Homo sapiens: one gene and its partner. The protein of the gene in region 1 interacts with the protein of each later gene in a pairwise test. Each region holds a gene or a part of one and is shown on either strand. Other genes may lie near its edges.

Region 1 (7,371 bases):
GTGTGAGTTTGTATGTGTGTGTGTTTGTGTGTGTGTGTGTGTGTGTACATGCCTGTGTGCTCACACCAGCACCAAGGCTTGGCTAGCTTGCAGGCCCCATTTTGACTCTTTCCTGGTTTGTCTCCACTCAAAATATTTGTGAATGAGTGAAAGGGTGGATGGACGGATGGGTGGATGGGTGGGTGGATGGATGGACGGATGGGTGGATGGGTGGGTGGACACACAGGTGGATTGAGACTTCCAAGGGTGGTCCAGGAAGAGAGGACTAGACCTGCCCCCTGTCACCACAGGCTCCACTGAGAAGTCACATGGGCATGGTGAGACGGGACACAAGGCTCGTCTCTGAGTGATGTCATAATCTGTGTGCACAGGGCTGGGGCTGTCACCCAGCAGCTACCTTGGAGAGCGCCCATAGGCCCAGGAATGCATGGCCATTTGGATTTTACGAGATGAGATCTTTTTTCTGCCCTTGAATGGTTGTACCTGGCCAGTGGCTGGACAGGTGCTCATCACCATGAATGCCTTCCTGGGGCTAAAGCAGGCCATGCTGTCACCTTCAGAACCACATGGGAACAGCAGGTTTGCATATGTCGTTTGCATAACATATTTTGAATCCGTTATTTCACTTAATCTTCACAAGAACCATGTGAAGTTGGTGAGATTTTTCACTCCAGTTCAAGAAAAGGAAATTTGGCTCCCAAGGGGTGGACTTATTTGTCCCAAGCCAAACAGCTGTTAGTAGGGAAGTGGGCACTCGGACCCACATGGCCGAGCTCATCACCTGGTTCAGTCTCCTCCACTCCCCACTTTAGTCAGGGGGCCTTCTCCTAATGGGCACAGCCCACCAGCCTTTTGGCACATTCCACCCAAGGACCCCGTATTCTGTGGTTAACCTGGGTTCTGGGGGCCCCATAGGAGAGTTACCAAGGGAACAAGGAGGAATGGTGGGCCCTTCTGTTCCACCCATTGATTCCCCAGAAGAAAGGTGCATTTGCATGTAGTGCCTATGGGCAGGGAACTTTCCCACCCTGAGGGAGTGGGGTCACACCACACACACGCACACTCACAAACACACTCACACATAGTCACACACACACTCACACACAGTCACACACATTCACACATAGTCACACACACATTCACACAGTCTCACACACACATAGTCACACAGTCACACTCACATAGTCACACACTCATAGTCACACACACACACAGTCACACACTCACAGTCACACACTCACACATAGTCACACAGTCACACACACTCACATAGTCACACACACTCACATAGTCACACACACACAGTCACACACTCACACATAGTCTCACACACACACAGTCACACTCACACATAGTCACACACTCATAGTCACACACACCCACACATAGTCACACACACTCACACAGTCACACACACACTCACACATAGTCACACAGTCACACACACTCACATAGTCACACACACTCACAGTCACACACACACTCACACATAGTCACACACACTCACACACAGTCACACACACACTCACACATAGTCACACACACACACACATAGTCACACACGTTCACACACACACAATAGTAAAGCCGTGACTCTTCCTGCAGGTTGGCCTTGGACTTTCTGGAATGGGCGTCAGCTCAGGAGTATGGCAGGAGGCCTGTGAGGGGCGGGGGGCCTCTGTGACTCAGGGCTGGCTCCGTGCTGGGGGGACAGATGGTGCTGTCACTGCCCACCTCGTTGGGGAAGGTGGGAGCAGCCTGGTGAGAGGACAGCATTGACCCGACTCGGGTCCACATTCCTGGTGCTGAACCACAAACCCTCAGGAAGCTCGAGACAAAGCAAGTCCCCTTCCTTGGAGAAGGAGAGGGTGGGCTAGAGGTTTCGAGTGCCCACCCAGCTCTGACGGGCCTTGAAAGGTCCGAGTCACTGCCTGTTCTGTGTCCCAGTCCCTGTCTGGAATGGCCACAGGACCCTTGTTTCTTGGGCAAGAAGGATGCATCATGGTACGCAGGGCAACTGGCCTAGTTCGTAAAGCACGCTCACCTTGAAGGAATAGAATTTGTTTTTTCTTTAGCCACCTGAGTAAATCATTTTAAAAGAATTAAAGTAAGATACATTTAACATTCCACCAACATTTATTAACACCAAACTAGACCAAAGCCTAACTGAGCCTTTAATTATTCAGAAGCTTAGATGGGGGAGGCGGCACTTGGAGGGGCCTCTGGGCTGTGGGGGCCGGCGAGAGTCAGGAGGGGAAAACAGAGCCCTGAGCCCAGGGAGGAGGCATTTGCGGGGAGAGCAGAGAGTTGGGAAATGGATTCCAGAATGCTCCATGAGCCCCTGGGACTGCAGGCCCTGGAATGTTCCTTCCTGCCTGTGCGTGCCACAGCATTACTGCTTAAAAATTTAAAGCCCCATTTGATACCATAGCGGGCACTCTATTTTCAGAGGGCATGAGCCATTTGCTATGAAAGAGGGCCCTTGCTCCTTAATGCACTGTGCATTTTAGCAGGAGGCAGCGCTGCTCCGTCCTCAGCTTCCCCCGCACACCCTGGCCTGTGTGCTATTTTCTTTCTTTCCTCTTTCTCTTTTCTTCTCTTGCTTTCTCTTCATGGGCAGAAGCAGGACAGGGTGCTCCAGAAACCTCAGCCCATGTGCCCTGTTGATAGGGCTGGGTCACAGCTGAGCATATTCCAGCCAGGTCGGTATTTCTGTGCCCTGGCTTCACCTTTAACCCACCTGGTGAGGCTGCAAGGTACTGAGTCCCAGGCCCCACCTCCAGAGTCTCTGATTTCTGTTGCCCTGGGGTCCCTGTGGGGAACCCAGGTATGTACAGCCCTGGAAGCCTCACCAGGTAGTTCCATGCAGCTAGGGTCGAGCACTGTAGGGACACAGATAGTGGCAGGCGTGTGGCACGGGCTCCGTTCTCTTTGAAGAAGCACTTGGCTCTGGGTTTGAGAGTGTAGGCTTTGGAGCCAGTCCAGCTTGAACTGGCAGGCCTCCTGGCTGGGTGACAGTAAGCAAGTTGCTTAACTTCTCTGAGCCTTGGTCTCCCTATGTGTAAAATGGGACTCAAAATAGTACTTATTCATTTCCCGGGGTTTTGTAAAGATCAAATGAGATAAATAACACAGCAGACTCAGTGCAGTGCCTGGAACATGGGAAAGGATGGATAATTATTAGCTGTTAGTTATCTTGAGGCCAGGTGTGTCTTTGTGTGTTGCTGGCCCCCCTCCCGCTTCTTAATGCCTGCTGCCCCGTTGGGTAGGGTGTGGGATAGACTGTCATCCCGTAGCTCTGTGACCCTGAGCCTGCCAGTTGGCTCCTCAGAGACACATCCTGCAGGCAAGAAAATGAAGGTGCTCAGAGGAAGGGCTGTGCTCAGAGGAATGCCTTCCCTAGGGTTGGGAGATGGGTGCGTGATTGCAGTCCTAGACTGACTGTGAGCTGGAGGCAGACCTGTGCCTGTGCCTTGTCCATGGCCAGAAAGGAAAGTGCATTCAGGGTTAGGAGAACTATAGGAGAGTAATTGTTTGGTTTTAAGGCAGCTGAATAGCTTGGTATCTTTAAAATTTGTTTTTTAAATCTAAAGTCTAATCTTTGAAATCTTTTAAAAGCATTCCTTCTCTGGGGAGCAAAAAGCCTACAGCACCGTGTGTGGTCTCCTGACTGAGGCCAGCATGAGCTCAGCAGCTTCTCCTCGGCACTTGTGGGCCTTCGCTCCTGGGGATTTTGCCAGGAGGGGAATGGAGAGAGGGGTCTGGACTGGCGCCGCCATTTGTATTGTTGCTTCCTCCGGCCATGTGGCTGCAGGAGCTACTCCCGTGCACTAGATTTACTGGACTTTGTGCAGGGGTTACAGATGTGGATGAGACCCAGTGTCACTCCCCCCATGAGCATCCTGTCCGGAAAGCTGTGGGGGGACAGCTGTGTGGCTCACTCCTAGGCAGACATTGTGCCAACAAAGTGACGTTGTTGTTTCCAAATAGTTTGCAGCTAGTTTTAACTCAGTCCATCAGAGAAGCCTCCCTGGAGGAGGTGGCATTTGGGCTGGGCCTTGAAGGACGAATATAGACAAACTTTACATCTTTTCTTGAAAAAGGTGCTGTAGTTATTCAAAGTGACAGAGGAAGACAACAAGAGAATCAGGCAGGTGGTATTAGAGGTATGCTTCCGTTTCTCGGGGAAGAGAAGGGGTGAGAGGGAGCTGAAGCCACCCCGTCGTGTACTTTACAAACTTAAAATTTCAAGATGAGTTTGTGTGTGTTACTTTCTGATAACAAGATATGAAATTCCTTGCATTTTGGGGTGCTGAGATTGGCAATAGTGGTTTTCCTTCTACTGAGGAGGCTTGGTTTGCTCTCTTGTATTTTACTTTATTTGGCGGGGTGGAGGATGTATAGTAAGAAGTAGAAACCACACTGTCCTCTTTTCACACTGACCGGCAAAGCTAAGCCTCATCCCCAAATGATTTTGTTCCTAGAAGGGAGAGTATTTTCAAATTCAGCAGAAAAGTCAGGAGTGAAGATTTGCTGTCATGGAGGTAACTTCCTCTCTAGTAATTGGATTAGATTCTGAGAAAATGACCCAAACACCACTGCAGCAATCCTCAGCTTCCTCCCGCCTCCCCGCAGCCCCGAATGCATTTGCACAGAAGCACACACCAGTTTCCTGCAAATAAAATGCACTGGCAGGTGGCTGCACTAAAACTGTTTTTCTTTTAAGCTCCCTGGAATCCTGTTGAATATTAAAGTTCCATCTTGAGGCTAGACTCAATTCAGATCTGCCTGTAAAGATGTAAAACAGCGATTCTTCATTTGCTGGGTGATTGATTCCTGACTCTATGCTCAGAATGTACATGTTTGCAGAGCAGTCATCTACCTATGATACTGTGGGGTGTGATGGATGGCATAGCAGATAGGGAAAAAAGCTTGATGCAGAGTCAGGGAGAGCAGCTCCCTTGTTCCTTCACTCTGCACTTAAGTAATCAACCTTATCAGCAAGACAGTCAATGAGATTTAGGAAGAAGGAGAATTTATACCTGGGGGCGGGGCAGCCTAAGAGTGCCATTCCTCTCTGCTGGTGTTTATGCTTGCCTAACTAATGTTGTCCTGCAACAGAAAGACTAGGAACAATCCCCACCCACCACTACCAAAAAAAAAAAAAAAAGAGAGAGAGAGAGATCAAGAGAAATCACCCAGCCTGTGCCTGGAGCTACAGCGAATAACGGAACTTGAGTCTCCTACACCCCTGATTTGCATCCCTGATGATAAGAACAGGTTGGCAAAGAAAATGTTTACCCAACCAATTTGCTGTGTTTGGGGAGTTATCAGTCCTCACAGTCCGCGATGCTGGCGATTACCTTGTAAATAATGCATGGGCCACTTCTGGTTCCCAGTGTGCTGGCTGTGTGGGAAAGGGCAATGTCTGTACGAGCAGGCAGAGAAGATTGCCTGGCACCTACTGCGGCTGTTTTGCTGAACCTGTTGCCCTTTTGACAGGTGCAGAACATGTCTCAATCCATAGAGGTCTTGGACAGGCGGACCCAGAGAGACTTGCAGTACGTGGAGAAGATGGAGAACCAAATGAAAGGACTGGAGTCCAAGTTCAAACAGGTGGAGGAGAGTCATAAGCAACACCTGGCCAGGCAGTTTAAGGTATGCATGTTCCTCCCCCTCTCCCTCCCCTTATCCTCCTCCTCCTCCTCTTCCTCCTCCTTCCCCTCCCTCCTCTCCTCCTTCTCTTCTTCCTCCTCCTCTTCTCCTCCTCTTGCTCCTCCTCCCTTCATCCTCCTCTTCCTCCTCCCTCTCCTTCTTCTCCTCCTCTTCCTCCTCCTCCCCCTCTTCATCCTCCTCTTCCTCCTCCCTCTCCTTCTTCTCCTCCTCTTCCTCCTCCCTCTCCTTCTTCTCCTCCTCTTCCCCCTCATCCTCTTCATCCTCCTTTTCCTCCTCCCTCTCCTTCTTCTCCTCCTCTTCCTCCTCCCTCTCCTTCTTCTCCTCCTCTGAGGCTGGGTGTGCTTTCCCTTCATGCTCTCCCTTTCCCTACAGAAATGGTCATTTGGGGCAGGGAGAAGCATAGCAAAGGTTGTTCTGTGCCTTGAAAGGACTGTTGCCCTTGGCAGTAGGGAGGCCACCACTGGCCCTGGCTTGGCAGAAGCCACCTTGACAGGGGCGGCCTGAGTGGTGGCAGCAGCATACACTCGCCCCCAAGCCCCCGTCAGTGTGGTTTGGAAGCCAGGGGTCTGAGATCCTGCGCTGCCCGAGCCAAGTCGAATATTAGCTGGGAAGGGACATCGTTATTGGCCCTTGTCATTCTGCAGCTGCTGCAGGTAAATCACATTAGCCAAAGATTAGCTGAATTGATGAGGGCCATTCTGGAGCAGGAATCTCTCAGGGCAGTTTTCACATCTGACCTAATCTAGCCATGACAAAGCATACCATAGACTTGCAGGGAAAAAAGAGAGAGATGCCAGCCTCCTTTCCACCTCGTGGGAAGTGTTCTGCTTCTCCGGGTAACTCTGGACATTAAAACTGGTGTTTGTTTGACCTAAAATCATAGATACAGATGTGCAGCCAGGTAGAGAGATGCCCACAGTTGACTCCATCTCAGTGCGATTCGACTGAAACGTTATATGCCGCCTTAATGAAGGTATACATGCATTTTAATTAGAAATCCAGCCCAGATGTAAATGAACAGGTCAAATTACACAGCCTCGCCCGACTAGAAACTGCTGGTGTACTCTGTCTCTGTCTTCCCGTCCTTTTTATGCTAATGTTTTTCTTCGATGTGCTCCCTGCATGAGGCAAGAACTAATTCTCTTTTAAAAATGATACATTAAATAGATGAAATGGCAAGCTAATGAAATTATAAATCTATATTATAAATAAAATAATAGCAGGCCCAATCCTGTTGAGGTGAAATGAGCCGATTGTGCTCATCAGAGGCAGTTGGACATTTTTGTCCTCGCATCTGGCTGGTCATCATGAATTACTCTGGAGGGAGAGATGTTGACCTGTCTAACCAAAAAAGCATTTATGTCTCTGAGCCAGCACTCCCTTCTCTGCGGCCAGCAGACTCCTCTAACGAGGGGGGTGTCTTCAGCAACTGGGAGGTAGCTCATCTTGGCAAACGTTGTTGACACAGGCATCTCTCCGAGTTTCCAATTTTGGGGTGCTGTGGCTCTGGGGGAAGAAAAGCAAGCGCTTGCCTATACTGTGCTAAACCGCATTAAAAAAATTCCAACAGAAATTGTGACGAGGGAATCTCAATAACTCTTAAAGCAGTTTGTTTTGACTAACTCGAGCATTACAGTGGGATTTTTCTAACTGACCATGCAAATATGTGTTTCCTGATGGCTGTCTGTTTCAGGC
Region 2 (7,371 bases), on another chromosome or scaffold:
GCTCATTGTGGTTTGAATTCGCATTTCCCTAATGCCTAATGATTTCAAACATATTTTCATGTGTGTGTTGGCCATCCTTATATCTTCTTCAGTGAAATGTGTCTTTTGCCCATTTTCTAATTGAATTATTTGCTTTCTTGCTGTTGTGTTTTAAGAGTTCTTTGCATATTCTAGCTATAAGTCCTTTATTGGATGTGTGATTTGCAGTTGTTTTTGCTCATTCTGTGACTTACCTTTGCGGCTTCTTCCCAGGGTCTTTCGCAGAGCAAACATTTGAAATTTTTGTCATGCTTTTGGTGTCAAGTCTTCGAACTCTTTGCCTAGTCCTAGATCCCAAAGACTTTTTCCTCCTGTGTTTTTTATCTTAAAGTTTTATAGATTATATTTAAATCCATAGTCCATTTCGAGTTAATTTTTGTTTAAGATATGAGATTAGGTCAACGTTTTGTTTGTTTTTTGGCTTATGGATGTCCACTTAACCCAGTGCCAAATGGTGCAAAGCTCTCTCTGCCACTAAATTGCTTTTGTACCTTTGTCAAAGATTGCTTGGGCATATGGACATATTCGTATGGATCTACTTTTGGATTCTGTGTTCTGTTCATTTGATCTATGTCCCTCTGTCAATACTGCACTGTCTTGATTACTGTAATTGTATAAAAAGACTTGAAGCCTACGCGGTGGCTCACACCTGTAATCCCAGCACTTTGGGAGGCCGAGATGGGAGGATCACCTTAGCTCAGGAGTTTGACACCAACCTGGCCAACATGGTGAAATCCCATGTCTACTAAAACAAAAATTAGCTGGGCATGCTGGTGTGCGCCTGTGATCCCAGCTACTTGGGAGGCCGAGGCAGGAGAATCGCTTGAATCTGGGAGGCAGAGGTTGCAATGAGCCAAGATCACACAACTGCACTCCAGCCTGGGCGACAGAGTGAGACTCCGTTTCAAAAAAAAGCCTTGAAATTGGGTAGACTGGTTATTTCTGTCTTTATTCTTTTTCTGAAAATGTTTTAGCTATTGTAGTTCCTTTGCCTTTCTGTATACATTTTAGGATAATCTTGTCTATACAAAAACATTGGCTGCAAGTTTGGTAGGATTTGCATTAAACATGCGTATCGGTTTGGGGAAAATTCATGTCTTTACTGTGTCCTGTCTTCCATTCCATGGACACAGTGTGTCTTCTCATTTATTTAGATTTCCTTTGATTTCTTTCATCTGCATTGTTTCGTTTTCCATTTCCAAGTCCTATACATGTTTTGTTAGATTTACAACTAAGGATAGTCTTCTATTGAACAATTGTCAATGGCATTGTATTTTTAATTGCAGTGTCCATGTTTTCATTGCTCATACATAGAAATATAGTTGATTTTCATATGCTCATCTTGTATACTACAACCTTGCTGAACTCACTTATTAGTTGTATGAGTTTTACGTTTTACTTAAAGTCCCAATTATTTAACACTTTCTATGTGCCAGGCATTATGCTAAAGCTTTCTTGTACTTGTCCAAGCCAGTAAATGGTGGAACTAGGATCTTCATACATAAATCATTTATCCACTTCATTAGTTCATTTCACAAATTCTTAGGCAGAGCTTATGTGAATCACAGTGAATCTAGGCACAAGGTCCTGCCCTCCTGAGCCCACAGTCTGAAACTAGCAGAAGTAATGCAAGTGAATATGTAGCTATGATACGTTCAAATTAAATAAGTTGATTTGTTACAACTGAGTGCATTTACTAGCTCATTCTGTAAGTGGGTGAGGCAAGGAAGGGCCCCTTACCGGTCTGGAGTGGGTGGGGGGGTGTCCAGGGAGGGCTTCCTAAAGAAACAGTGTTGCAGGGCATGATGGCTTACATCTGTAATCCCAGCGCTTTGGGAGGGCAAGGCAGGAGGATCACTTGAGCCCAGGAGTTTGAGAGTAGCCTGGGCAACATAGTGAGACCCTGGCTGTAAAGAAAGAGAGAGAGAAGAAAGAAAGGGAAGAAGATAACCATCTGATCTTTGACAAACCTGACAAAAACAAGCAATGGGGAAATGTTTCCCTATTTAATAAATGGTGCTGGGAAAACTGGCTAGCCATATGTAGAAAGCTGAAATTGGATCCCTTCCTTACACCTTATACAAAAATCAATTCAAAATGGATTAAAGACTACATGTTAGACCTAAAACCATAAAAACCCTAGAAGAAAACCTAGGCAATACCATTCAGGACATAGACATGGGCAAGGACTTCATGTCTAAAACACCAAAAGCAATGGCAACAAAAGCCAAAATTGACAAATGGGATCTAATTAAACTAAAGAGCTTCTGCACAGCAAAAGAAACTACCATCAGGGTGAACAGGCAACCTACAAAATTAGAGAAAATTTTCGCAACCTTCTCATCTGACAAAGGGCTAATATCCAGAATCTACAATGAACTCAAACAAATTTACAAAAAAAAAACAACCCCATCAAAAAGTGGGCAAAGGATATGAACACACACTTCTCAAAAGAAGACATTTACGCAGCCAAAAAACACATGAAAAAATGCTTATCATCACTGGCCATCAGAGATATGCAAATCAAAACCACAATGAGATACCATCTCACACCAGTTAGAATGGCGATCATTAAAAAATCAGGAAACAACAGGTGCTGGAGAGGATGTGGAGAAATAGGAACACTTTTACACTGTTGGTGGGACTGTAAACTAGTTCAACCATTGGGGAAGTCAGTGTGGCGATTCCTCAGGGATCTAGAACTAGAAATACCATTTGACCCAGCCATCCCATTACTGGGTATATACCCAAAGGATTATAAATCATGCTGCTATAAAGATACATGCACACGTATGTTTATTGCGGCACTATTCACAATAGCAAAGACTTGGAACCAACCCAAATGTCCAACAACGATAGACTGGATTAAGAAAATGTGGCATATATACACCATGGAATACTATGCAGCCATTAAAAATGATGAGTTCATGTCCTTTGTAGGGACATGGATGAAACTAGAAACCATCATTCTCAGCAAACTGTCGCAAGGACAAAAAACCAAACACTGCATGTTCTCACTCATAGGTGGGAATTGAACAATGAGAACACATGGACACAGGAAGGGGAACATCACAATCCGGGGCCTGTTGTGGGGTGGGGGGAGGGGGGAGGGATAGCATTAGGAGATATACCTAATGTTAAATGACGAGTTAATGGGTGCAGCACACCAACATGGCACATGTATACATATGTAACAAACCTGCACATTGTGTACATGTACCCTAAAACTTAAAGTATAATAATAATAAAAAAATTAAAAAAAAAAAGGAAAGAAGGAGAAAGAACTGATGTTAATTTTCCCAAGCTTATTGATTCTTATCAACTCACATCAGTTTCTGACATTCAGAGATGTCTGTGATCAAAGCTCATATGAAGAGAATTCTAAATGTTGCATGGCAAAGAACCCAAGAACTCCTGGCCCAAACCGCATGCAGCTCCCCACTCGTCTCTGCGTCCTCCTCACCTCCTTCACCTGCTGCTGTCTCAACTTGACCCCTTCCATCTGGCCCCTGACCCCTGGACTCTGTGGCCTCCCTGAGCGGCCAGCACAGTCACGTCTAAGTCGACCTGACCATCTGCCTGCTGGGTGCTGCTGGCTGCTGCTGGCTGCTGCTGGCGCTGGCTGCCCTGCACATTCTCCATGCCCTCCTTTCCATGGCACCAGTTTCTGCCTCTCCTTTGGGTTTCTTTCCCCTTGCCCCCTGGCAAGCTGGGTTTTGAAGTCATTTGGGATGGAAGGTGGGCCATTTGAAGAGCTGTAGGGTCAGGCCCTCATTCTGCCAGTCCATTTGGGAAAAATCTTCCATGTCACTAAGCTCTTGTAACAATAGCTACAAAAGTTGCTTGTTAGTTGGGAACTGAAATCTGCCTGTATAGAGATTTGCCCTCAGATGGATTTCCAGGTAAAGACAGACCCCCATCCCCATTGAGCAGGGAAGGAGCGGCCCCTCCCTGGCAGTGCTGTGTCCTCTGATGGCGTGCAGCACTTCAGAGTTACTCTGTTAGGCAGCATGGCTCTCCCTTTGCATGGGAGTGAGTGTCCCACAACCAGCACTGTCTCTGCCTGCGCCTTTCCTCCCAGCCCCATGGCCGTGTGCTGAGTGCACCGGCCCTGTTCTGCCTTTGGACTGAGGAGGCGTGTTCCTCTTCCTATGTCTCCCTGACTGTAGGAGCGATCTCTCTTTGAGTCGGCATGGAAGAAGGAGAAGGACATCGTTTCCAAGGAGATAGAGAAGCTCCGCACGTCCATCCAGACCCTGTGCAAGAGCGCACTTCCCCTGGGGAAGATCATGGACTACATCCAGGAAGACGTGGATGCCATGCAGAATGAGCTGCAGATGTGGCACAGCGAGAACAGGCAGCACGCCGAGGCCCTGCAGCAGGAGCAGAGGTGGGGGGTAGTAATGGGGAGGGGGCCCTGCAGCAGGAGCAGAGGTGGGGGGTAGTAATGGGGAGGGGGCCCTGCAGCAGGAGCAGAGGTGGGGGGTAGTAATGGGGAGGGGGCCCTGCAGCAGGAGCAGAGGTGAGGGGTAGTAATGGGGAGGGGGCCCTGCAGCAGGAGCAGAGGTGAGGGGTAGTAATGGGGAGGGGGCCCTGCAGCAGGAGCAGAGGTGGGGTGTAGTAATGGGGAGGGGGCCCTGCAGCAGGAGCTGAGGTGGGGTGTAGTAATGGGGAGGGGGCCCTGCAGCAGGAGCAGAGGTGAGGGGAAGTAATGGGGAGGGGGCCCTGCAGCAGGAGCAGAGGTGAGGGGAAGTAATGGGGAGGGGGGCCTGCAGCAGGAGCAGAGGTGAGGGGAAGTAATGGGGAGGGGGCCCTGCAGCAGGAGCAGAGGTGAGGGGAAGATAATGGGGAGGGGCCCTGCAGCAGGAGAGAGGTGGGGGGGAGCAGGGGGATAATGGGAGGAGGCCTGCAGCAGGAGCAGAGGTTAAGGGTAGCAGAGGCAGGGAGTAATGGGGAGGGGGCCCTGCAGCAGGAGCACAGGTAGGGGATAGCGGAGTGGGGGGAGTAATGGGGGAGGAGGCCCTGCAGCAGGAACAGGTTGGGGTGGGGCAGGAGGGTAATGGGGAGGGGGCCCTGCAGCAGGAGCAGAGGTAGGGGTGTAGCGGAGTGGGGCAGTAATGGGGAAGAGGCCCTGCGGCAGGAACATAGGTGGGGGGTAGTGGAGGGGGGATCCCCAAAGTCAATGGGGACTTTGCTGCATACCTCCTTGTCCCAGAGGTTGTTCTGTATGTAATTTAAGGACTTCAAGATTATCATTGAAGAAATATTAACTGCTGCTTTTATAAATCTCATGTTTGACTTCACTTTTGGTTGTAGCAGGGGTTGTGAAAATAAGAAATAAATATTATCCTTTTCTTTGGATGAAACGAATAATTTACTTCTGTTGTCTTTCAATGTCTTAATTAAGAAGCCAACACACAATGAGATGAGAGAGTGATGAGCCGCTGGTTTTGTTCTCCCTCAGGATCACAGACTGTGCCGTGGAGCCCTTAAAGGCTGAGCTCGCGGAGCTGGAGCAGCTGATCAAAGACCAGCAAGACAAGATCTGTGCTGTGAAGGCCAACATCCTCAAGAATGAAGAAAAAATCCAGAAAATGGTATATAGTATCAATTTGACTTCGAGAAGGTGAACACTCAAAAGTTTCAGAGATGAAAAGTCACCTCAGTTTAAAAGCAAAAAGGAAGATAGAAAATCATTACTCTTTTAAGTTCCAGTTTGCTAAGAAAATGAACAGTTTACAATGTTATTATCCAGCTAATTTTCAGAGCTTTAAAACTGTAAGCATGTTAAGTGTATTAAAAAAACCATGTTTTCTTACCTCCTTCCAGATGGAATACTGGCTAGTTATAAATAGCGCTTCCAAACACCTCTGTGAAAAGTTTTTTTGAAAGCCTGTTCTTTGTGTTTCTGCTGTAACCTGTTTAGTTCTGTACCAGAACTCTCTAGCAGGTAAGTGGTGTGGGCATACCAAGGGAACAGTAGTCCTTTATTTTGGTTTAGTGGAAAGACTTTCAGAGGTCAGTGCCGAATGAAGGATGACTGTGTACTTTTTGATAGGCACTTGATAAGTAGAATGAGGCCTGAAAATGAATACATTATATTTTTAGTTAATTTCCAATGGAAAGGGCTAACCTCAGCCTGTCTCCATATCAGGTACCTATCAACTGGATTGTTTTCATTTTTGTTTTTTGACCTCTTTGTAATTGCATGTACTTCTCTATGTAATTTTCCTCTTGATCTCTACTATCGTTTGCTTGTGTTTCTAGTCCTTAAAGTTCATAAATTTAAAAAGGAGATTTCAGGATGGCCTTTATGGACGTTGTCTGGACATACATCCTCACTTTCTTCCGCAGTTTACCCTGGTTTTCCTCAGACAGAGGCTAGCGCAGCCCCCCGGAGTCCTTGTTCTCCTTAAGAGGGTCTCGCTCTGCAAAGCATTGGCGCCATGGCTTTTCCTTTGCATGGGTGTGCATACCGAGAGACAGGCAGCTTAGGAAAAACAACATAAGGAAGACTTAAAAGGATGCACTGATTTACGACGTTTTTTGATGTTAGCCATTTTTTTGGAAATTGTTTTTTAAAGCAAAAGTTTTTTAAAAACATGGTTTATAGTTTTTCACTTACATATACTATTGTAAATACTTAGCAGAGTCTTAAGTTACTGTATAAAACATTTCATTGTGTTTGAAGACATACTTATGGGTCTTGAGGTCTGGGTCCTAATACTTTTAAATAGTGTATTTATTATGTAAACTGAGGAGTGCCATTTAAAGTGTGAGGATTGCCTGAAAAGGTTTTGTTTCTTTCTTTTTTTTTTTTTTTTGAGATGGAGTCTTACTCTGTCGCCCAGGCTGGAGTGCAGTGGCGCAATCTCGGCTCACTGCAACCACCGCCTCCCGAGTTCAAGTGATTCTCCTGCCTCAGCCTCCTGAGTAACTGGGACTACAGGCGCACGCCACCATGCCCAGCTAATTTTTGTATTTTCAGTAGAGATGGGGTTTCACCGTGTTGACCAGGATGGTCTCCACCTCCTGACCTCGTGATCCGCCTGCCTCGGCCTCCCAAAGTGCTGGGATTACAGGCATGAGCCACTGCACCCGGCCAGGTTTTGTTTCTTTAAGGATTAGCACAAATGGCACCGTTGGGTTTTTCTTCATACAATTTCCAAAATAAATTCTGTACTCAGGTTGTTATATGATTTTCTGAGCTGAATAAGTTCAGGAGCAGATTATTAAGATCTGCCATTCTGAAACGCTGGTCTTTTTCTCCTTCCTATAGTGCACCATAAAATTCTGTTTGATCAGATTATATTACATACATTTTGGGGGAGT

What was found.
Region 2: the proteins of OLFM1 (region 1) and TRAF3IP1 interact in a two-hybrid assay, tested with the Homo sapiens proteins (2 studies listed by BioGRID and IntAct).

What each region holds. Positions count from the first base shown.
Region 1 is NC_000009.12:135,090,362-135,097,732, forward strand, and holds part of OLFM1 (noelin isoform 4 precursor), read left to right. Parts: intron 1-5,502; coding exon 5,503-5,658; intron 5,659-7,371. UniProt on the Homo sapiens protein: Contributes to the regulation of axonal growth in the embryonic and adult central nervous system by inhibiting interactions between RTN4R and LINGO1. Inhibits RTN4R-mediated axon growth cone collapse.
Region 2 is NC_000002.12:238,393,251-238,400,621, forward strand, and holds part of TRAF3IP1 (TRAF3-interacting protein 1), read left to right. Parts: intron 1-4,208; coding exon 4,209-4,429; intron 4,430-5,503; coding exon 5,504-5,669; 3' UTR 5,670-7,371.